Linked DNA regions of Homo sapiens. The protein of the gene in region 2 interacts with the protein of the main gene of each other region in a pairwise test. Each region holds a gene or a part of one and is shown on either strand. Other genes may lie near its edges. The genes, in order: DNAJC5 and SH3GL3.

Region 1 (12,448 bases), on a different chromosome or scaffold from region 2:
ACAGCCTCGGGTGGCTGCTGAGGGCAATGAGTGAGCTGGGGCCACGGGTCAGCAGGCAGGCAGGGAAGGGGGCTTCAGGAGGCTCATCTGGTTGGTCCGAGCCAGAGCCATCACACACAGCCTCCTCCTCAGCTTTATCTCTACAGGGACCTCTGCAACTCTGCAGCGGCCACCATGGACATTCTGCAGAAACCAGGCCCACTGGAGTCTGCAGCATGGCGCCAAAGGCAGGCCCAGCACATCCCATGAGCTACGGAGTGCGGGCAGCTCTGAGCCCTCAGCCAGCACAGGGACATCAGACCCGTTCCCCCTGCTCCCCTATGCAGGGCGCCACCCACAAGGTCTAGGACACGCAAGAGACTGACTTCCCATGGTCCACATGTGGATTCCGTAGTCTGGCTGCTGGCCTCCCAAGGGACCCACAATGGTCCACGTGTGGATTCCGTGGCCTGGCTGCCGGCCTCCCAGGGACCCACAATGGTCCACGTGTGGATTCTGTGGCCTGGCTGCCGGCCTCCCAGGGACCCAACCCTCCTGAGCCAGAGGGTCCCTCTGGTCCAGTCAGTCCTTCCTCCAGGGACCTAACGAATCTGGCTCTGCCTGAATCATCGATGACGGGGCAAAGGCGAGTGGGGCAGATGGGAGCTCTGGCAAACACAGGAGGAGGGGTCGTGGGAGAGCCCCCGTCCCCAGTAGCTGGGTGCTCACACATGCACAATCTACTCTCTGACTGTGGCTCATTGGGCTGGTCCTATCATCTGTGGTTCTAAAGGTCCAAAAAGGGCTATGGAAAGGACAGGTGTGCTGGAAGGAATGTGGAGAACGACCTCAAGATGGGAGGGGGGAGACTGGCCCCATCAATCCAGCTCAGAGCCCGGGAAAAGTGCAGGAACACAGACAAATAACCCCAACACGGCGAAGGACACACCTCCGAGAACCAGAACGGCAGCGTCCACACGACGAGACGACCAGGCGAGAAACACCGCGGAGGACACGGTGTCAACCTCGGAAGGGGCCTCCTATGCTTTCCACACCAAATTCTCCCACGGGAGAAACCCTGCCACAAGGCCCAGGAAACCACAGACCCCCAAGCCAACCATGCCCAGCACAGACACCAAGGAATGACAGTGACGCCGGTGACGCCAGGAGGACGCGGCCCCGCCTCTCTTCTGGCAGGTGAGATCAGAGTCCTACTGCAGCCTCAAGGCTGGGAGCACAGAGTGTGGACCAGACCCCGAGGCCAAGACGGTAACACAGCTCTGCCAGGCAGCACCTGCCTCCGGCCCCTCAAGCACAGGTAGGAAAGGGGCAGCCCCCCTTCTCCTCGCCCACCTGACCGGCTGCAGTCACCCCTCACTGGACCAACCTGACCGACAGCCCTGAGGCAGCTCCACCGTGCAGTTCACGCGGTCATGCCGCGGAATGTCCACAACACAGACATGGAACAGAACCCCATACATGCTATTAAAAAAGGGAAAAAAACAGAAGACCGTAGCTACACTGCTTTAAATACTGCATGCTACGCACTTCGTGGGTCAAGGGTCGACGCTGGGTGGGCGTGGAGGCAGGAGGGGCCCCAGCAAGGCCAGGGCAGGCAGGAGGCTGCCTTCCCATCTCTGTGACTACAGTTCATGATTCTAAGGTTGGCGTGGCCAGGCGCCGGCTCCTCCTCTGACCACAGCTCCTCCTGGATTTAGTTGAACCCGTCAGTGTGGTAGCTGGGGTGGGAGTCGGCTGTGAGCTGGGTGGTCTCGGTGGCGGATGCCGGCTGTATGACGATCGGCGTGTCTGTGGCCTCTGAAAAGCAAGCACACAGGGCACTGCACGAGGGCCACAGCCTGGCGCGCACCCAACGCTGGTCCTGTGGAGCGACTTTCGGGCACCTGGACAAACTCTCCACCGGGAGAGGCTACTCGCTGACCTCCACCCCACACGGCTTTCCTCCGTCGCCTTGGGTCACCGCCAGCCCTCGGCCCTCAGCCCCGCCCCAACTGCCTGCCGCCCTGCCCCGCCTCGCAGTCCCTGGGATCTACGGCTACCGCAGGTCACGGCGGGGACAGCTCTATGCGCCTGCTTTACCTCAGGGTCCACGTTCACACCTCAACAGTCCCAGCTGCCACCACAAACACTCGCGGCACAGTGTCAGTGCCCTCCTGTTTGACAAGACAGGTTGACACCATTCAGGGCCCATTCTGGCTCTGCCCCACACACACACACGGGCCCTGGGGCGGGCACTCACCCCTCTCGTCAGACTGCAGCTGTGCCTCCAGATCCTCGGGGGACACGTAGAACTCCGTCTCCTCGCCTTCAGGCGCCTTGGGCTTACACTTCCCGCAGCAGCAGTTGAAGCAGCAGCACAGACAGCAGCAGCAGTAGCAGCACGTGAGGAGGCCGCAGAAGACAAACAGGGCCTGGGGGGAGAAGAAGGTGGTGTTGCATGGCCTCCGAGGCCCCTGGAGAGGGAGGCGCAGGACTCCCAAATGCCCTCAGCAGAAGGCAGGGGGTGCGTTCCAGGTGGGGATACTGCCTTCCAGACAGGAAGCAGAAGGAAAGAACTGAAGAAGGGAGGAGGAGAGACAGAAAGAAACCCGCAGCTTAAAGAAAAGCAGCCTCCAAGACGGGCGTGGTGGCCCATGCCTGTCATCCCAGCACTCCAGGAGGCCGAGGCTGGCGGATCACGAGGTCAGGAGATCGAGACCATCCTGGCTAACACGGTGAAACCCTGTCTCTACTAAAAATACAAAAAATTAGCTGGACGTGGTGGCGGGCACCTGTAGTCCCAGCCACTCGGGAGGCAGAGGCAGGAGAATGGCGTGAACCCGGGAGGTGGAGCTTGCAGTGAGCCAAGATCGCGCCACTGCACTCCAGCCTGGGAAACAGAGCGAGACTCCGTCTCAAAAAAAAAACAAAGCAGCCTCCAGGCTGGGCACAGTGGTTCACGCCTCAACTCCTGCAGTTCTGGAGCTGAAGTGGGAGGATCACTTGAACCCAGGAATTCAAAGTTAAAGTGAGCCAGGATCTCACCACAGCACTCCAGTCTGGGCAACAGAGCGAGACTCTGTCTAACATTAACTAAATAAAAAGTACTTTATAAGGATTCTAGTGAGGAGGCCGACCAGTCAAAGCCAAATACAGGCTTCTCACAAATGCCATGCAGTGATTCCAACCCTCTGGCCTCATATATGACATTTGGAACAAAACGAGGAAACGAAGAAATGCGGATGTAACATCGAGGCTTATTTCCTCCTGTCTCACGAAGGACTGGGAGCCATTTACAGAAGAAACCCTGGCGGCTCCGCACGGCTCTTCCCTGGGACAATCTGTACGCTATGGCTTGTTCCAGGCAGGACACCAAGCCAGTGACAGAGCTTCGCCCATCACACAGGTGAGGAGAAAGGCTCCATATGCCCAGAAGCCTTTTCTCAGGAGTGTAGAGTTGCTGGCATCAACGCATGGGCTCTGCAATGCTGGGAACCCTGCAGGCGTGGAGTGACCCGGGTGCCCACATGGCAGGAGAGACTCGGGTGCCCGCACGGCAGGAGTGACTCGGGCGCCCGCACGGCAGGAGTGACTCGGGTGCCCGCACGGCAGGAGAGACTCGGGTGCCCGCACGGCAGGAGAGACTCGGGTGCCCGCACGGCAGGAGTGACTCGGGTGCCCGCACGGCAGGAGAGACTCGGGTGCCCGCACGGCAGGAGTGACTCGGGTGCCCGCACGGCAGGCAGCTCGCCCTCACCTTGGCCCACCAGCTGGACAGCACGAAGTAGGTGTTCACGTTCTCTTCCCCAAACTGCTCGGCCACGTAGAGACCCAGCGAGCCGTACTTGTCGTAGATGTTCCTTTTTGTGGCGTCCGTGAGGATGGCGTGCGCGTTGTTGATCTCCTTAAACTTGTCCGCGGCCTCCGGGTTGTCGGGGTTCTTGTCGGGGTGATATTTCAAGGCAAGCTTCCTGCAAACCAAAACCATGTCCTGGCTCTACCCTGGACTTTGTTCCACCCGCACCCGCCGCCGCGTCCATCCCACCCGCACGCACTGCCGGGTGCAGTGGAAGGCAGGTCCACCCAGGCCACCTCACTGTCCGACTCTCCAGGGCTGCAGGGGCCAGGGACAAAAGCAAGCTCCGCGGTTGTTTCAGGTAAACCTCCTCACCCTGACCCAGCCTCAGAGGAGGGAGCCCCAAGGGCTGTGAGTGCCACGGCACATCTAAGTTCAGCGGCACCAAGGCCAGCCCTGGTGTCCCAGCCGCTAACTGCACAAGTGCCAAGTGAACGGTAAGCACGGCGGGGCGTAATGATGGCACTTTAAGAAGTGTTTTATGAACTACACGATGCTAGCACACGAGAGGAGGACTATCTGAATTGTCTGGATTAGTGATGGTGTCTCTTACAGGTTACTCAATGAAACTGTACCCAAGAGTGCAGTTCTTCAAGCTCAATCAGAAGGCCACAACAGAGTGAGGGGTCTCTGTCATCACTGTGCTAAAACAAGGAGACCACAGGACCATGCCAGCGCTCTGCGGCTCCTGTGAGGCCTCAAACAGGTTCAGACCCTGACTCCCTATGGAACTGTGGACAGTGTGTCAGTTTCTACTAAGTGCTATTTTTTGTTGGCAAGAGAACATGAATACCATAACTTTAAGCTATAAGGAGCACATTACACATACAAAGGTGTTACCGAGCTGTGACCAGTTCAACGCTGAGTCGGCCAGGATAAAGTATGTGCAATGGTTCTTGGTAAAATGCAGACTAAACCACACGGGGCATGTGTGTCTTCCTGGGGGGATGTGGGGGCCACACTTGTCCACTTACCGATAGGACTTTTTAATGTCATCTGAGGTTGCGTTCTTGTCCAACCCAAGGACGTGGTACAATGACTCCCCAGAGGTAGACAGTGAGCGCTGTCTCTGGTCTGCCATGTTAGGCTATTCTAGAAGAAAAAATAAAAAGAAAGTATCACAAAGTATAGATGAAAGTACCAAGGGCAGAGCTGATGGACTTTATTCCATAAGACCGTTCAAAGCAAAAGAATCCAACACTGCCTTGTGGAGTTTGCCACGTGCACAGACAGACGCCATGGCATGGAGAAGTGTGAGACGGCAGAATACGGCCACCCCAAGAGATCCTGAAGAACTGCAGCTGTGTACTGTGGGCCGGCACAGGGGCTCACACCTGTAGTCCCAGCATTTTGGGAGGCTGAGGCGGGAGGACCGCTTGAGCCCAGGAGTTTGAGGCTGCAGTGAGCTATGATCACTCCACTGCACTGGAGCCCAGGAGACAGGGACCCTGTTCCTTAAAAACAAATATATAAATAAACAAAATAAATTAATTAATTAAAATAAACATGCATATTGTAATCCTTACAGCAACCTCTGCATAAAAAATGCAAAGAGGTATAAGCTAAAAAGTTACAAGAAAAATGAAAAAGTAACTCAACACAGGAAACAAATAGAAAATTAGTTGGAAGATCTAAATCCAAACATATCAACAATTAAATTCAATGTTAGTGGACAAAAAACTCCAATTAAAGTAAGGGACTGACAGAATGGATAAAAATGCAAGACCCAACTTTAATTTTAATACTTTCTCAGAAATCGACAGAACAGACCAAAAATCAGGAAAAACATCGATGTTCTGAACAACACTATCAACCACCATGACCTGATCTTCACAGAACACCCAACATCTAGAGAACACACAGTTTCTTTCTTTCTTTTTTGGGGGGGGGGACAGTTTTGCTCTTGTTGCCCAGGCTGGAGTGCAATGGCACGATCTCGGCTCACCACAACCTCCGCCTCCCCGGTTCAAGCAATGCTCCTGCCTCAGCCTCACACAGGAGTAGCTGGGATTACAGGCATGTGCCACCACACCCAGCTAATTTTGGTATTTTTAGTAGAGATGGGGTTTCTCCATGTTGGCCAGGCTGGTCTTGAATTCCCGACCTCAGGCTGAACTCCCGACCTCAGGTGATCCGCCTGCCTCAGCCTCCCACAGTGCTGGGGTTATAGGTGTGAGCCACAGCGCCTGGCAAATACACATTGTTTCTACATTGTTTCTAACTAATCAACCACCATGACGTGACAGTCACAGAACACCCAACATCTAGAGAACACACATTGTTTTTAACTGAATGCTGTACACTAAGACAAGCCACATGTTAGGGCTTCAAGCTGGTTTCAATAAACGTAATGGAATGAGGTCACACACAGCACTATCCCTGACTTAGCTACAAACTGGAAACCCAGGAGGAAGATACTCTTGATATTCAACAACACACCTCCGGCTAACATGTAGCTCAAAGAAGAAATCCCAGGGGAACTTAGAAAATGTTTTGAATTGAATAATAAATACAGTGTACATGACGGTTAATTTCATGTCTCCTTTGCTGCATCGTGGGGCACCCAGATGAAACATGACTTCAGGGTGTGCCTGGGAGGGTGTTTCTTGGTAAGAGCAGCACCTGAGCTGGGGGCTCCATGAAGCCAACTGCGCTGCCCTGTGCAGGTGAGTGTCGTCCCAGTCCACGGGGGTCCCGAATAGAAAGGGGTGGGAGGAGGAGTTGGCCTGGGTTTTCCTTCTCGCCTGCCAGCCTGAGCGGGGCCACGTGTCTCCTCCTGTCCTTGGACTGTTATTATCCCACTGCTTTCCTCAATCTTCAGCAAATGGCAGAGCATGAGATTCCGTCTCCATAATGACGTGGGCCAATTCCTCATAACAAATCTCCTTTAGAAAGAGACACAGATAATGGCAACGTTCCTCTGCAGAATGCTGACTAGTACAACACGTTAATCAAGGCCTAAGGCTCCGCCTCAGGAAGCTACAAAGTAACAGGATAAACCCAACATAAATGCAAGCAAGGAAATCATAAGGAACAGAAATCCATGAAAACAAACAGATAACTTCAACAAAGCCAAAAGAGTTGGTTCTTTGAGCAACATGAGGAAAGACATCACTACAGATCCTAGAGGCGTGAAAAGGATAAAATACGAACAACTTCATGCCAAGAAATTAGAAAAATTAGATGAAATGGACAAATATCTTGAAAATTACAATTTACCAAGACTGACATGAAATAGAAAATCTGAATAGGCCTGCATCTGTTAATAAAGTTATATTTGTAATAAAAAATCCCCAGAAGGCCAGGCGCCGTGGCTCACGCCTGTAATCCCAGCACTTTGGGAGGCCAAGGCGGGCAGATCACGAGATCAGGAGATTGAGACCATCCTGGCTAACACAGTGAAACCCCATCTCTAATAAAAATACAAAAAAATTAGCCGGAAGTGGTGGCAGGCACCTGTAGTCCCAGCTACTCGGGAGGCTGAGGCAGGAGAATGACGTTAACCCGGAAGGCGGAGCTTGCAGTGAGCAGAGATCGCACCACTGCACTCCAGCCTGGGCGACACAGCGAGACTCCGTCTCAAAAAAAAAAAAAAAAAAAACCAGATAAAATTCCAGGCCCAGATTTTTTTTTTAACCAAATATTTAGGAAATGACATCAATATGGGGTTTTGAGATAGTCTCGCTTTGTTGCCCAGGCTGGAGTGCGGTGACGCGATCTCGGTGATACTGGCAGGAGGCAGCTGAATGCCAGGCAGATGGGGCGGGTTCCCGGTGAAACCCACCTCCAAGCCAAAGACAGTTTAAAGCCTGACAGCTGAGCTACAAGTTAAATCCTCAGACTAGATGAAGAACTTGCCTTCCTGTTTGCCACACTTTCCTCTGATTGATCCCCATCCTTCACCTATTTTACACATACCTACCCTTTCCTAATTTTTATTTTTGAGGTGGAGTCTCGCTCTGTTTGCCCAGGCTGGAGTGCAGTGGTGTGACCTCAGTTCACTGCAATCTCTGCCTCCCGGGTTCAAGCGATTCTTCTGCTTCAGCCTCCCAAGTCACTGGGACTACAGGCACGCGAACCACGCCCAGGTAATTTTTGTATTTTTAGTAGAGATGGGGTTTCACCACATTGACCAGGATGGTCTTGAACTCCTGACCTTGTGATCCGTCTGCCTCAGCCTCCTAAAGTGCTGGGATTACAGGCGTGAGCCACCGTGCCCGGCCTCTTATAATTGGTTTTCTACACTGTCATGCCCACTTTAACCTTTTCTGCATACTCACAAACCCATCAGCAAGCTCTGCAAGCACTCCGCATCCTGAGTCCATAAAAAGCCCCAGACCCAGCCACACAGGCGGACTTTCCTGCCTTCAGGTAGGGGAACCACCCCTGCATCCCCTGGTCCGCTGAAAGCTGTTTCACTGCTCAATAAAGTTCTTCTCCGCCCTCCTCACCCTTCAATGTCCAGTGTATCCTTGATCTTGAGTGCGGTACATGAGCTCGGGAATGGCCGAACACAGTACAAGCTATAACACAGGTGAGTTGGGGCACGCCAGTGTGGCCAAGCAGGGCCCAGGTGGGGCATCACTGGCCAGGGGTCCCCGGCTTGCAAAGTGACCGAGAAGAAAAATCCTAAGTCATCAACTCACTGCAACCTCCGCCTCCCAGGCTCAACCCATTCCCATGCCGCAGGCACGGGACTACAGGCACGCACCACTGCACCCAGCTAATTTTTGTATTTTTAGAGACAGGGTTTTGCCATGTTGTCCAGGCTGGTCACGGACTCCTGGCCTCAGTCAATCCCCCCCTCGGCCTCCCAAAGTGCTGCGATTACAGGCATGAGCCACCGTGCCCGGTTTTTTGTTTTTGTTTTTAAGTTAAATAGGCATGGTGGCTCATGTCTGTGGTCCTAGTGACACAGGAGGTTGAGATAAGAGGATGGCTGAGCCCAGAAGCTCGAGGCTGCAGTGAGCCATGATCGTGCCACCACACTGTAGCCTGGGTGACACAGTGAGACCTTGTTTCAAAAAAAGAAAAAGAAATAACAAGACCTATGAAATCTGTACGTTGAAAACCACAAATTGCTAAGATACTAAAGATAAGAAAAAGATTCCTCATGTTCACGGATTAGAAGCCTCGATATAAAGAAGTCAGTTCTCCCCAAACTGATCTGTAGACTTGACAGAAGCCTAACCCTAATCCAAGAGGATTTTTTTTTGCAGAAACTGATACTGATTTTTTTAAATGTATAAGGAAATGTAGCAGACAGATTAGCCACAGCAACATTAATAAAAAGAACAAAAGTTAGAGAATTTACCCTATTGATTTCAAGACATATACTATATATCTACAGTAATCAAGACCATCTGGTACTGAGGAAAAGACACACACACAACAGCAGAATCGAGTTCAGATAGATTCATACTGAAAGGCACAGAAGGGGAGAAAATATTTACATTATGTACGTATAAAAAACAATTCACAAGTGGAATAAAGAACTCTTACACAAGTCAATTACTAAGGCAAAAAACTCCATTTTTAAAAACGGCCAGGTCGTTCTGGCTCAAGAGCGCAGAATGACTTGGAGGCAGTGAGAGTGTAGGAACGGATGGACTTGGCAGATTTTCTTTTCATTCTTACCATTTCAGGATAGAATCCAAAATCACTCAACACATAAAGCTGAGAAAATGTTAACTCATTCTTTCTTTTCCCCGCCTGACTTTATTGCCCGGGCTGGAGTGCAGTGGTCACATTTCAGCTCACTGCAACCTTGACCTCCTGGGCTCAGCTGATCCCCCCACCTCAGCCTCCTGAGTAGCTGGGACTACAGGTGTGCAATACCACGCCCAGCTATTTTTTAAAATTTTTATAGAGTCAGGATCTTGTTGGTCTCAAACTCCCAGACTCAAGCAATCCGCCTGCTACAGCCTCCCAAAGTGCTGGGATCACAGGTGTGAGCCACCCTACCCAGCCTAATTTTTTTTTTTAGAAACAAGGTTTTTCTCTGTTGCCCAGGCTGGAGTGCAGTGGTGCGATCTTGGCTCACTGCAGCCTTGAAATCCTGGACTCAAGAAAGCCTCCCTTCTCAGCATCCCAAGCAGCTAAGACTACAGGAATGTGCCACCATGCCCAGCTAACTTTAAAATTTTCTATAGAGACACGGTCTGGCTTTGTTGCCCAGGCTGGTCTCAAGTGATCCTCCTGCCTCAGCCTCCCAAAGTGCCAGGATTATAGGTGCAAGCCACTGCTCCTCACCAAAATGTGACTTATTCTTTTTTTTTTCTTTTTTGAGACAGAGTCTCACTCTGTTGCCCAGGCTGGAGTGCAGTGGTGCAATCTCAGCTCACTGCAACCTCCACCTTCCAGGCTCAAGCGATTCTCCTGCCGTAGCCTCCTGAATAGCTGGGACTACAGGCACGTACCACCACGCCTGGCTAATTTTTGTATTTTTAGTAGAGATTGGGTTTTGCCATGTTGGCTAGGCTGGTCTGGAACTCCTGACCTCAGGTGAGCCACCCGCCTCAGCCTCCCAAAGTGCTGGGGATTACAGGCATGAGCCACCATGTCCGGCTAAAACCTAGATTTTTAGAAAGGAATGAAGACCACTGGAAATGGTAAATACCTAGGTAAAACACCATTTTTTGCTTTTTTGTTTGTTTGGAGACAGGGTCTTGCTCTGTCACCCAGGCTGGAATGCAGTGGTGTGATAAGGGATCATGGCAGCCTCAACCTCTCAGACTCAAGTGATCCTCCCAACACAGCCTCCTGAATAGGTGGGACTACAGGCGTGAGCCACCATGCCAGCTAAGTTTTTAGAAATTTTTTGCAGAGACGGGGTCTATGTTGCTCAGGCTGATCTTGAATTCCTTGGCTCAAGTGATCCTCCTGCCTTGGGTCATGGTCACCAAAGTGCCGAGATCACAGGAGCCAACCCTTTCTGATGTCTATTTTTTTTTTTTTTTTGAGACAGAGTCTCACTCTGTCACCCAAACTGGATGGAGTGCAATGGTGCAATCTTGGCTCCATGCACCCTCCACCACCCAGGTTCAAGCGATTCTCCTGCCTCAGCCTGCCAAGTGGCTGGGATTACAGGCGCGCGCCACCACACCCAGCTAATTTTTTTGTATTTTTAGTACAGATGGGCTTCACCATGTTGGCCAGGATAGTCTTGAACTCCTGACCTCAGGTGACCCGCCTGCCTCGGCCTCTCGAAGTGCTGGGATTACAGGCGTGAGCCACCAACCTGGACTGCCTATTTCCTTGGGGTAATGAGTCCGGGAGTTTGCCACCTGATGTTTGAAGTAGCACCTCACAACTTCATTCTTCCTAAACTTGGTTTAAATTTCAAGGGGGCCGGGAGTGGTGGCTCACGCCTGTAATTCCAGCACTTTGGGAGGCTGAGGTGGTTGAATCACCTGAGATCAAGAGTTTGAGACCAGCCTGGCCAACGTGGTGAAACCTCATCTCTACTACAAATACAAAAATTAGCTGGGTGTGACGGTGTGCATCTGTAATCCCAGCTAGTTGGGAGGCTGAGGCAGGAGGATGGCTTGAACCCGGGAGGAGGAGGTTGCAGTGAACTGAAATTGCACCACTGGACGTCAGCCTGGGTGACAGAGTGAGACCCTGTCTCCAAAAAAAAAACTTTCAAGGGGATCCCATGTCAACAGAAAGGTTATAACACAGTTAAAGGAGAGGCCTGGTGTGCAGCCGCAGCTACACGAGCAGCACGTGCTGCAACCTGCTGCAAGTGACGAGCTGCCATCAGCGTTATTCGCAGTCTTCATTTCTGGAGGGCTAAGTTCCAACCTTCAGTCAGAACTCTTTTTTTTTTTTTTTGAGACGGAGTCTCGCTCTGTCTCCCAGGCTGGAGTGCAGTGGCACTATCTCGGCTTGCTGCAAGCTCCGCCTCCCGGGTTCACGCCATTCTTCTGCCTCAGCCTCCTGAGTAGCTGGGACTACAGGCACCCGCCACCACGCCCGGCTAATTTTTTGCAGTTTTAGTAGAGACGGGGTTTCACCGTGTTAGCCAGGATGGTCTTGATCACCACACCTCGTGATCCACCAGCCTCGGCCTCCCAAAGTGCTGGGATTACAGGTGTGAGCCACCAGGCCCGGCCTCAGTCAGAACTCTTTTAGTGACATCATTATCTTTAAAAAGCAAACAAGGTGGCCGGGCACGGTGGCTCAAGCTTGTAATCCCAAAACTTTGGGAGGCTGAGGAGGGCGGATCACCTGAGGTCAGGAGTTTGAGGCCAGCCTGACCAACATGGAGAAACCCCATCTCTACTAAAAATGCAAAATTAGCCGGGCGTGATGGCACATGCCTGTAATCCCACCTACTCAGGAGGCTGAGGTAGAAGAATCACTTGAACCCGGGAGGTGGAGTTTGCAGCGAGCTGAGACCGTGCCGTTGCACTCCAGTCTGCGTAACAATAGTGAAACTCCGTCTCAAAACAAAACAAAATAAAAAAAAGCAAACAAGGCTTTGGGAGGCTGAGGCAGGTGGATTGCTTCTTGTGGCCAGGAGTTCGAGACCAGCCTGACCAACATGGAGAAAACCTGTCTCTACTAAAAATACAAAATTAACTGGGTGTGGTGGCACACACCTGTAAT
Region 2 (12,448 bases):
TAAAGATGATGCAGTTTTTCTAAATAATCAAAAAGCTAATAAAGACAGCACAAAGCACCATAAATTCTTAATAAAACATGAAAGTTCTGTTTCCCAGGCCATTTACTGAAAAGGCAAAGAAAAACCTCCTACGGTATGAGTACTTCTTCCTTTGGGAATCTCATTTAGATAAACTGTAAGTCGAACCTGATGAAACAGTATTTGAATTCAATTAGACACTGGAAAAGTATGTGTCGAAGGTCATGAGTATATACCACATTATAGAAGAATAATGTAAACAAGGAAACCAGTACCTTGAGCAGTGGAATGCATGGCTTTTAGAAAAATTAAAGACACATGAAATTGCCTGGTTACATGGAACAATTTAGACACATCAAGAAAAGCCAAAGCCAGGTGTGGCAGCATCCGTCTTTAATCTCAGCTACTTAGGACACTAAAGTGAGAGGATCCTTTGAGCCCAGGAGGTCAAGGCTGCAGTGAGCTATGAACACATGACTGCACTCCAGCCTGGGTGACACAGCAAGACCCTGTCAAGGAAGGAAGGAAGGAAGGAAGCAAGGAAGGAAGGAAGGAAGGAAGGAAGGGAGGGAGGGAGGCAGGGAGGGAGGGAGGGAGGGAGGGAGGGAGGGGAGGGGACGGGAGGGGAGGGGAGAGGGAAAGGGAAAGGGGAAAGGGAAGGTCACAATAACAGGGTGAGAACTGGGGGTGGGGGGGAAACAGCCACAGGAACTGATGAAAAAGTTGAGAGTGAGAGTCACCACTCCAGTTAAAAAGAAAATGTACCTTTTCAAGGAGAGAAGGAAGAAGAGCAGAAGGCAATGATGCATGACCTGCAAATTGTATGTCGTGAGACGTGGCAAAAAGCTGAACTCTTGAGATATGACTCTGGAAAGCTTTAAGAGCAAAACTCTATCTCAAGAAATGAAATTATCATTTTAAATGAAGAAGGCAGCACTTTCAATTTGAAATTAGGCAGAAACTGTATAACATGAAAAAGCTGTAGTTCAGAAGAAGGTTGAAAGTATAAAGAAATCGATTTCAGAATTAAAATCAAATCCTCTTGCAAGTTTTTACTAGGCGTAGATCAATATTCTGAGAAAATCTTGTTGCTCTGGTCCTGCATCAGTGTATCCCTGAAACCAGGGCTAAATTCTGAAATTCCTTTCCGGAATCCCAGCCAACCCAATTATACACAAAACTCCCTTTCCAAGACCCATCTTTCATAAACCCTCCATGACTCGCTTAGACCTGCCATCATTTTCTTAAACCCTAGTGTGATGGCTAACGTTGAGTGTCAACTTGATTGGATTGAAGAATGCAAAGTACTGTTTCTGGGTGTGTCTGTAAGGGTGTTGCTAAAGGAGATTAACATTTGAGCCAGTGGACTGGGAGAGGCAGACCCACCCTCAATCTGGGTGGACACCATCTAATCAGCCGACAGCGCAGCTAGAATAAACCAGGCAGAAGAATGTGGAAAGACTAGACTGGCCGAGTCTCCTGGCCTTCATCTTTCTCCCGTGCTGGATGCTTCCTGCCCTCGAACATTGGACTCCAAGTTCTTCAGCTTTTGGACTCTTGGACTTAAACCAGTGGTTTGCCAGGGGCTCTCGGGCCTTCGGCCCAGACTGAAGGCTGCACTGTCAGCTTCCCTACTTTTGAGGTTTGGGGACTCAGTCTGGCTTCCTTGCTCCTCAGCTTGCAGATAACCTATTGTGGGACTTCACCTTGTGATCGTGTGAGTCAATACTCCTTAATAAACTCCCTTTCATATATACATCTAACCTATTAGTCCTATCCCTCTAGAGAACCCTGACTAATACACCCTTCTTTGTCCTACAGTGAAATTTATCCAGGAGAGAAGAAACAATAGTGCAGAGAAGAGATGGCAACAAGAGCAAAGTCCCTGAGAAAATGAGAGGAGATGGGATTGGAAGCACAATGGTGTGACTAGCCAGGTGTGTCTTCCACTGTTGCACTGGAGAAGCACTGAAGCACTACATATGAGCTCACAAGACCCTCCAGAGTTTTGATTTGTGGCCCAGAAGAAAGAAAGGTGGACAAGGATGAGAAGATTTGACTCGGATATCAGATTCACTAGGGAGGACTCAAGTTATCCAGCCTGAAATATCAGCAGCCTCTACCACGGATGGATGATTTGAACAGGCAAAGTACTTAGTAGCATTACTGTCTGAGGAAGATGTAGCCAGGGACGGGGAAAAGACACCATTATCCACTGGATTTGGAAGTCAGAAGGAACAACACCTGGCTCAGGAAGGCCACTGGCTGCTGGTGCTGTGTGTGGTAAAAACATTGGGATGACCCTGGAAATTGGGAAGGAATTCCCATTGGGAAAGCATTTCAAAGAACTAGAATAGTTAGAACTGGAAACAATGCCTCCCTGATCTCATCAATAGTACTTCTCTCAGACTCTCCCCTCAGCTCAACACTTTCCCAGGTTTCTGTTGAAAAGCAAAATCTAACTGTCCACATTTTGCTGCTAAAGATTCTCCAGAATATGTTCACTATTTAGCCGAACAGTGTGTCAGTTGTTTACTGACAGTTCTATCTTCTGGGCAAAGCATGCCAGTAATAGCTTCCCCAAATACACATGAGATACCCACACACACACTTAACTTTGGGAAATTAATTTACATTCCGTTTGTTAATAAAGCTGAAAAATTAAACTAAAGCAATAGGGAAAAAAATCCCTGCTTTCAAATGCATTTTTAAATCAAATTCCAAGTGATACCATGAGTTACATTTACTTTATAGAACAAAAAGTCCTCAGTGGTAAGAAATATATGGATTGTATTATATCCTTAAGATATTTTAAAAAATCAAAATCAATCCATTTTAAACATCTATCTTCACACCCTGACTTTAAAAAAAAGGATTTATCAATTAGTTTATCAAGCAATCTATGTGAAAAGGAGCAAGAATGTTTTAGCTTTAATATATTTTCTGATGCGTCTAAGAGAAAAAAATAAATCATTATGGATTGTGCAAAGTGCATTTTATCTTTCTCTCTAATGAGATAGTGAAACAAGAGACATTCATTGCCTCCCTAGAGAATCTCATGATTTACAAAGAATATCCTTCTCTGAAGCATTTACCCCTAAATGGCCAGCCTGTATAGTCAGTGATTACAGGGAATACGTCCAGGCCCCTCATGACCCCTTATCATTTTTCTGGCTAATGCATTAAAAGAGAAAGGGGGAAAAGTTGTAAAAAAGCACTGTGTTAGAGGCTCCCCTTCTTTCTGCCCTACAAGCAGTGTCCTTTAACCTCTGGCATGTGTTGCTGAGTCACATGACAGAAGTTAAAAGGCATAAAGAAGTAAATTTAACATGGAGCCCACAAGTGTCATCAGTAGATGGTTAGTCTTGGGAGAGAAGGAGAGGAGGAGAAGAGATGAAACTGGTCCCTGGACTTTTATGGGATGCAGAACAAGGACCCTGGAAGACAAGAAGGTCCAGAAATGGAAAGAATATGACTATTAGTACTTTCCAGGTCAGAACACACATAGGTGTGCCCTGAACTTCCTTCTTCAACAATAAATGCTGTCAAGAAAAATTACTATGAAATAAGCATACAAATACAAATCAGTGAGTGGTAACACAAATGTAAATATTGTAAGCTATATTTTTATTGGTGAGGTACCACGTTTAACAAGAAACCACAATGCCATATCTATGCTATTTGTATTTATTTATAATAGCTCAAGCTACATCTCTACCAGAAGAGTAAACAGCTCTATCAAAAAAATCTTGTCAAGAGAAAAAATATTTAACTATGCACTTGAAAAATTTGGGTTCTGAGGGGAGGAGCCAAGATGGCCGAATAGGAACAGCTCCGGTCTACAGCTCCCAGCGTGAGCGACGCAGAAGACGGGTGATTTCTGCATTTCCATCTGAGGTACCGGGTTCATCTCACTAGGGAGTGCCAGACAGTGGGCGCAGGCCAGTGTGTGTGCGCACCGTGCGCGAGCCGAAGCAGGGCGAGGCATTGCCTCACCTGGGAAGCGCAAGGGGTCAGGGAGTTCCCTTTCCGAGTCAAAGAAAGGGGTGACGGACGCACCTGGAAAATCGGGTCACTCCCACCGGAATATTGCGCTTTTCAGACCGGCTTAAGAAACGGCGCACCACGAGACTATATCCCACACCTGGCTCAGAGGGTCCTACGCCCACGGAATCGCGCTGATTGCTAGCACAGCAGTCTGAGATCAAACTGCAAGGTGGCAACGAGGCTGGGGGAGGGGGGCCCGCCATTGCCCAGGCTTGATTAGGTAAACAAAGCAGCCGGGAAGCTCGAACTGGGTGGAGCCCACCACAGCTCAAGGAGGCCTGCCTGCCTCTGTAGGCTCCACCTCTGGGGGCAGGGCACAGACAAACAAAAAGACAGCAGTAACCTCTGCAGACTTAAGTGTCCCTGTCTGACAGCTTTGAAGAGAGCAGTGGTTCTCCCAGCACGCAGCTGGAGATCTGAGAACGGGCAGACTGCCTCCTCAAGTGGGTCCCTGACCCCTGACCCCCGAGCAGCCTAACTGGGAGGCACCCCCCATCAGGGGCACACTGACATCTCACATGGCAGGGTATTCCAACAGACCTGCAGCTGAGGGTCCTGTCTGTTAGAAGGAAAACTAACAACCAGAAAGGACATCTACACCGAAAACCCATCTGTACATCACCATCATCAAAGACCAAAAGTAGATAAAACCACAAAGATGGGGAAAAAACAGAACAGAAAAACTGGAAACTCTAAAACGCAGAGCGCCTCTCCTCCTCCAAAGGAACGCAGTTCCTCACCAGCAACAGAACAAAGCTGGATGGAGAATGATTTTGACGAGCTGAGAGAAGAAGGCTTCAGACGATCAAATTACTCTGAGCTACGGGAGGACATTCAAACCAAAGGCAAAGAAGTTGAAAACTTTGAAAAAAATTTAGAAGAATGTATAACTAGAATAACCAATACAGAGAAGTGCTTAAAGGAGCTGATGGAGCTGAAAACCAAGGCTCGAGAACTACGTGAAGAATGCAGAAGCCTCAGGAGCCGATGCGATCAACTGGAAGAAAGGGTATCAGCAATGGAAGATGAAATGAATGAAATGAAGCGAGAAGGGAAGTTTAGAGAAAAAAGAATAAAAAGAAATGAGCAAAGCCTCCAAGAAATATGGGACTATGTGAAAAGACCAAATCTACGTCTGATTGGTGTACCTGAAAGTGATGTGGAGAATGGAACCAAGTTGGAAAACACTCTGCAGGATATTATCCGGGAGAACTTCCCCAATCTAGCAAGGCAGGCCAACGTTCAGATTCAGGAAATACAGAGAACGCCACAAAGATACTCCTCGAGAAGAGCAACTCCAAGACACATAATTGTCAGATTCACCAAAGTTGAAATGAAGGAAAAAATGTTAAGGGCAGCCAGAGAGAAAGGTCGGGTTACCCTCAAAGGAAAGCCCATCAGACTAACAGCGGATCTCTCGGCAGAAACCCTACAGGCCAGAAGAGAGTGGGGGCCAATATTCAACATTCTTAAAGAAAAGAATTTTCAACCCAGAATTTCATATCCAGCCAAACTAAGCTTCATAAGTGAAGGAGAAATAAAATACTTTATAGACAAGCAAATGCTGAGAGATTTTGTCACCACCAGGCCTGCCCTAAAAGAGCTCCTGAAGGAAGCGCTAAACATGGAAAGGAACAACCGGTACCAGCCGCTGCAAAATCATGCCAAAATGTAAAGACCATCGAGACTAGGAAGAAACTGCATCAACTAATGAGCAAAATCACCAGCTAACATCATAATGACAGGATCAAATTCACACATAACAATATTAACTTTAAATATAAATGGACTAAATTCTGCAATTAAAAGACACAGACTGGCAAGTTGGATAAAGAGTCAAGACCCATCAGTGTGCTGTATTCAGGAAACCCATCTCACGTGCAGAGACACACATAGGCTCAAAATAAAAGGATGGAGGAAGATCTACCAAGCCAATGGAAAACAAAAAAAGGCAGGGGTTGCAATCCTAGTCTCTGATAAAACAGACTTTAAACCAACAAAGATCAAAAGAGACAAAGAAGGCCATTACATAATGGTAAAGGGATCAATTCAACAAGAGGAGCTAACTATCCTAAATATTTATGCACCCAATACAGGAGCACCCAGATTCATAAAGCAAGTCCTGAGTGACCTACAAAGAGACTTAGACTCCCACACATTAATAATGGGAGACTTTAACACCCCACTGTCAACATTAGACAGATCAACGAGACAGAAAGTCAACAAGGATACCCAGGAATTGAACTCAGCTCTGCACCAAGCAGACCTAATAGACATCTACAGAACTCTCCACCCCAAATCAACAGAATATACATTTTTTTCAGCACCACACCACACCTATTCCAAAATTGACCACATAGTTGGAAGTAAAGCTCTCCTCAGCAAATGTAAAAGAACAGAAATTATAACAAACTATCTCTCAGACCACAGTGCAATCAAACTAGAACTCAGGATTAAGAATCTCACTCAAAGCCGCTCAACTACATGGAAACTGAACAACCTGCTCCTGAATGACTACTGGGTACATAACGAAATGAAGGCAGAAATAAAGATGTTCTTTGAAACCAACGAGAACAAAGACACCACATACCAGAATCTCTGGGACGCATTCAAAGCAGTGTGTAGAGGGAAATTTATAGCACTAAATGCCTACAAGAGAAAGCAGGAAAGATCCAAAATTGACACCCTAACATCACAATTAAAAGAACTAGAAAAGCAAGAGCAAACACATTCAAAAGCTAGCAGAAGGCAAGAAATAACTAAAATCAGAGCAGAACTGAAGGAAATAGAGACACAAAAAACCCTTCAAAAAATCAATGAATCCAGGAGCTGGTTTTTTGAAAGGATCAACAAAATTGATAGACCGCTAGCAAGACTAATAAAGAAAAAAAGAGAGAAGAATCAAATAGACACAATAAAAAATGATAAAGGGGATATCACCACCGATCCCACAGAAATACAAACTACCATCAGAGAATACTACAAACACCTCTACGCAAATAAATCAGAAAATCTAGAAGAAATGGATACATTCCTCGACACATACACTCTCCCAAGACTAAACCAGGAAGAAGTTGAATCTCTGAATAGACCAATAACAGGCTCTGAAATTGTGGCAATAATCAGTAGTTTACCAACCAAAAAGAGTCCAGGACCAGATGGATTCACAGCCGAATTCTACCAGAGGTACAAGGAGGAACTGGTACCATTCCTTCTGAAACTATTCCAATCAATAGAAAAAGAGGGAATCCTCCCTAACTCATTTTATGAGGCCAGCATCATTCTGATACCAAAGCCGGGCAGAGACACAACCAAAAAAGAGAATTTTAGACCAATATCCTTGATGAACATTGATGCAAAAATCCTCAATAAAATACTGGCAAACCGAATCCAGCAGCACATCAAAAAGCTTATCCACCATGATCAAGTGGGCTTCATCCCTGGGATGCAAGGCTGGTTCAATATACGCAAATCAATAAATGTAATCCAGCATATAAACAGAGCCAAAGACAAAAACCACATGATTATCTCAATAGATGCAGAAAAAGCCTTTGACAAAATTCAACAACCTTCATGCTAAAAACTCTCAATAAATTAGGTATTGATGGGACGTATTTCAAAATAATAAGAGCTATCTATGACAAACCCACAGCCAATATCATACTGAATGGGCAAAAACTGGAAGCATTCCCTTTGAAAACTGGCAAAAGACAGGGATGCCCTCTCTCACCGCTCCTATTCAACATAGTGTTGGAAGTTCTGGCCAGGGCAATCAGGCAGGAGAAGGAAATAAAGGGTATTCAATTAGGAAAAGAGGAAGTCAAATTGTCCCTGTTTGCAAACGACATGATTGTTTATCTAGAAAACCCCATCGTCTCAGCCCAAAATCTCCTTAAGCTGATAAGCAACTTCAGCAAAGTCTCAGGATACAAAATCAATGTACAAAAATCACAAGCATTCTTATACACCAACAACAGACAAACAGAGAGCCAAATCATGAGTGAACTCCCATTCACAATTGCTTCAAAGAGAATAAAATACCTAGGAATCCAACTTACAAGGGATGTGAAGGACCTCTTCAAGGAGAACTACAAACCACTGCTCAAGGAAATAAAAGAGGACACAAACAAATGGAAGAACATTCCATGCTCATGGGTAGCAAGAATCAATATCGTGAAAATGGCCATACTGCCCAAGGTAATTTACAGATTCAATGCCATCCCCATCAAGCTACCAATGACTTTCTTCACAGAATTGGAAAAAACTACTTTAAAGTTCATATGGAACCAAAAAAGAGCCCGCATCGCCAAGTCAATCCTAAGCCAAAAGAACAAAGCTGGAGGCATCACACTACCTGACTTCAAACTATACTACAAGGCTACAGTAACCAAAACAGCATGGTACTGGTACCAAAACAGAGATATAGATCAATGGAACAGAACAGAGCCCTCAGAAATAATGCCGCATATCTACAACTATCTGATCTTTGACAAACCTGAGAAAAACAAGCAATGGGGAAAGGATTCCCTATTTAATAAATGGTGCTGGGAAAACTGGCTAGCCATATGTAGAAAGCTGAAACTGGATCCCTTCCTTACACCTTATACAAAAATCAATTCAAGATGGATTAAAGATTTAAACGTTAGACCTAAAACCATAAAAACCCTAGAAGAAAATCTAGGCATTACCATTCAGGACATAGGCGTGGGCAAGGACTTCATGTCCAAAACACCAAAAGCAATGGCAACAAAAGCCAAAATTGACAAATGGGATCTAATTAAACTCAAGAGCTTCTGCACAGCAAAAGAAACTACCATCAGAGTGAACAGGCAACCTACAACATGGGAGAAAATTTTCGCAACCTACTCATCTGACAAAGGGCTAATATCCAGAATCTACAATGAACTCAAACAAATTTACAAGAAAAAAACAAAGAACCCCATCAAAAAGTGGGCGAAGGACATGAACAGACACTTCTCAAAAGAAGACATTTATGCAGCCAAAAAACACATGAAGAAATGCTCACCATCACTGGCCATCAGAGAAATGCAAATCAAAACCACTATGAGATATCATCTCACACCAGTTAGAATGGCAATCATTAAAAAGTCAGGAAACAACAGGTGCTGGAGAGGATGTGGAGAAATAGGAACACTTTTACACTGTTGGTGGGACTGTAAACTAGTTCAACCATTGTGGAAGTCAGTGTGGCGATTCCTCAGGGATCTAGAACTAGAAATACCATTTGACCCAGCCATCCCATTACTGGGTATATACCCAAAGGACTATAAATCATGCTGCTATAAAGACACATGCACACGTATGTTTATTGCGGCACTATTCACAATAGCAAAGACTTGGAACCAACCCAAATGTCCAACAATGATAGACTGGATTAAGAAAATGTGGCACATATACACCATGGAATACTATGCAGCCATAAAAAATGATGAGTTCATGTCCTTTGTAGGGACATGGATGAAATTGGAAATCATCATTCTCAGTAAACTATCGCAAGAACAAAAAACCAAACACCGCATATTCTCACTCATAGGTGGGAATTGAACAATGAGATCACATGGACACAGGAAGGGGAATAACACACTCTGGAGACTGTGGTGGGGTCGGGGGAGGGGGGAGGGATAGCATTGGGAGATATACCTAATGCTAGATGACACTTTAGTGGGTGCAGCGCACCAGCATGGCACATGTATACATATGTAACTAACCTGCACAATGTGCACATGTACCCTAAAACTTAGAGTATAATAGAAAAAAAAAAATTAAAAAAAAAAAAGAAAATCTATAACCTTAAAAAAAAAAAAAAAGAAAAATATCCCATTTTAATAAAGGATAATGCATATTAGAAAAAAAAAAAAAAAGAAAAATTTGGGTTCTAGTCTCAAACGCTGAAACTTAGAATTAATTAAATTTTTTTGTTAACTTATATTCTTCTCATTTTAGCATATTTCTTCCTCTTTCCTGTTGGTCTCCATGTGCTGCCAAAATGATGCATAATCCCCAGGGTTTACGAGTCTTCATTCTCTGTAAAGTAGGGGTTTTTTCCCAGAGATAGGGAAGGTATCAGGAAAAAAGGAACAGTTAACCGGGTTATAGCTAATTTTACCTCGCTTATCTTTCAGAAAACTATCTCAGTTTGCCATGGTCCTGGATCCCTTCTCTGTAAAAGGTCCACTTTATCATCTTTGTCTTACTCTGAAATGCTTAACTTACTTAAGAATTTCAGCACTGAGATGTATACATACACACACACCCAGAGACACAGAGACATATTCGTATCACTTTATTGAGATATATTTCACATACCATACAATTCTCTTAAAGTGTACAATTCAGTGGTTTTCAGCATATTCACAGAGTTGTGAAACCATTGCCACAATCATTTTTATAACAGAAACATAGCTTCTAAATTCCCTGAGTCATCATACAGATAGAAACCAAGGTCCAGATGGGTTAAGTTATGTTCCCAAGGTTACAGAGCTGGTCAGTGGCTGAGCCAGACCTAGATCCCTGGAAATTATTTTAGCCATTGACATCATCTGGGGCTCCCTTCCCCTGCCCCAGGTAAGTTCTGTATGAATTAAAACCTGCTGTTAAAATGTTGTCTGAGAAAAACATCTGGCATTTTTTATTATTGAGCTCCCTCATATTATATTAAACCGGTCTGATTTCTCCACCAAATTGTTGCATTGCAAGATTTTTTAGAAAGACTTCTAGAACATATTAAAACATATCTACTGAGTACTTTTAACCACAAAACATGGCTATGAAGCCCAGAGAGAATCTGTGATGCCTCTCCTTTCAGGTAAAGTCATAAATTATTTCCGCTCATGCGAAAAAAAAAAAAAAAAAGACTAAATAAGACGTTCTGTTCATTTCATTTTTAATGTACTGATTACAGGTAGTTAAACCAAACTACCCATGACTAGCAAAATATTTCTCCAGTGCCAATAACTTCCAAGGATTTCAACCATTCATTCTGGTTACTGTCAGAAACCAACTTAAATCACCCAAGGGCTTACGTTATCTCTGAGATTTGCTTATCTTTGAGATTTGCCCCTGTGAAGTCCATACCCAATAAAGGAAAAGTTTTCAAAAGAGGAGGTTCATTTCCTGCCAGTGCTAAGGAAGCCAATGTAACAAGTACAGCCAGCGATTACTCTGGCACTGCTCTGCTCTGCTCTGCTCACAGCAGCACTCGGCCTCCTGGCTGTACCAGCTGAGGACACTCCACAATACCTAGCTCACTGAAGCACTTGTTGATTGCTCCTGCCTTTAAATGTCCCCCTTCCATGATGGTCTTCTCTCTCCTGTCATCTACGAGTTCTTTCTTTCCTGTGTTGTGCCACCCCAAAATTTCATCTATTCAATAAATATTTATTGAGTGGTCACTGCTCAACAATTACTGGGCTAAACATTGTCCCTAAATGGGGGTGCTGTCTAGAGTCTGCCTTTAACTCGCTGTGCCTTTTCTCACTTTTGTCTACACATACATTTTTAAATCTCCGCTTAGGCTGGAAATCACCAAAAATCTGTAGCTCCAGTACCAGCCTCACCCCCTGAGCTGCAGGTCAGGATATGCACCCCAACCCAGGCCAGTGACATGTGAATGTCCCAAAGACCCCTCAAAGTCCCTGGGTTCAGTGGTGAATCCATCATCTCCACCCTCACCTGAATAGCCTCTCCTCCAGGGCTCCTTAACACCTTGAATAGCACCACTGTCCACCCAGTGCCCCCAGCTAGAAACAGCATCACCCAGTTTCCATATGGAAAGAGTGTGAGTGAGGGGACAGCAGTGCCTTTCAGCCTGGAACTGGGGCTAGAAGAAGAGAATCTTCTAATTGCAGTTGCTTTCTATGGGCCAATTTGTGGGAGAAGCAGGATGAGACCTCACCACAAATGTGGACGTTGAATGAAATCTGTCTACCCTGGCTCTAGCAAAATGGGGGCTGGGGTTGCGGGGAGAGGTGGTGAGAAGCAACAGACCCAGCGGTGCTGGTGGGGAACAGGTTTTACAACGTGAGCTCTGCCATAGCTGGAAGAGCCTGCAATGTTGATGTTGAAAAACAAATTTGCTTGTCATCAACACACACACACACACACACACACACACACACACACACATCAATTTCATGTCTCCCCTCCTGTTTTCCTGTTTCCTCTGCTCAGAACGGCTTTCCTCCTATCATCCCACACCCTCAGCCATAATTCTTCCTCATACTTAATTCTCAAATGACATGTCTCCTCCTCCGGGAAGCTCTCCCTGACGCCCCCACTGTGTTATTTGTCATCCTCTGTGCGTGGAGGTGTGTCTAGCACTGTTTGTTTACGTGTCTGTCTCCGTGTCTCCCCTGCAGGCTGT

What was found.
Region 1: the proteins of SH3GL3 (region 2) and DNAJC5 come close enough for resonance energy transfer, tested with the Homo sapiens proteins (one study listed by BioGRID).

The regions. Positions count from the first base shown.
Region 1 is NC_000020.11:63,920,814-63,933,261, reverse strand, and holds part of DNAJC5 (dnaJ homolog subfamily C member 5), read right to left. Parts: intron 7,091-12,448; exon of another isoform or gene 6,275-7,090; intron 5,961-6,274; exon of another isoform or gene 5,940-5,960; intron 4,928-5,939; 5' UTR 4,917-4,927; coding exon 4,810-4,916; intron 3,951-4,809; coding exon 3,737-3,950; intron 2,412-3,736; coding exon 2,240-2,411; intron 1,798-2,239; coding exon 1,694-1,797; 3' UTR 1-1,693. UniProt on the Homo sapiens protein: Acts as a general chaperone in regulated exocytosis. Acts as a co-chaperone for the SNARE protein SNAP-25. Involved in the calcium-mediated control of a late stage of exocytosis. May have an important role in presynaptic function.
Region 2 is NC_000015.10:83,448,205-83,460,652, reverse strand, and holds part of SH3GL3 (endophilin-A3), read right to left. Parts: intron 1-12,448. UniProt on the Homo sapiens protein: Implicated in endocytosis. May recruit other proteins to membranes with high curvature.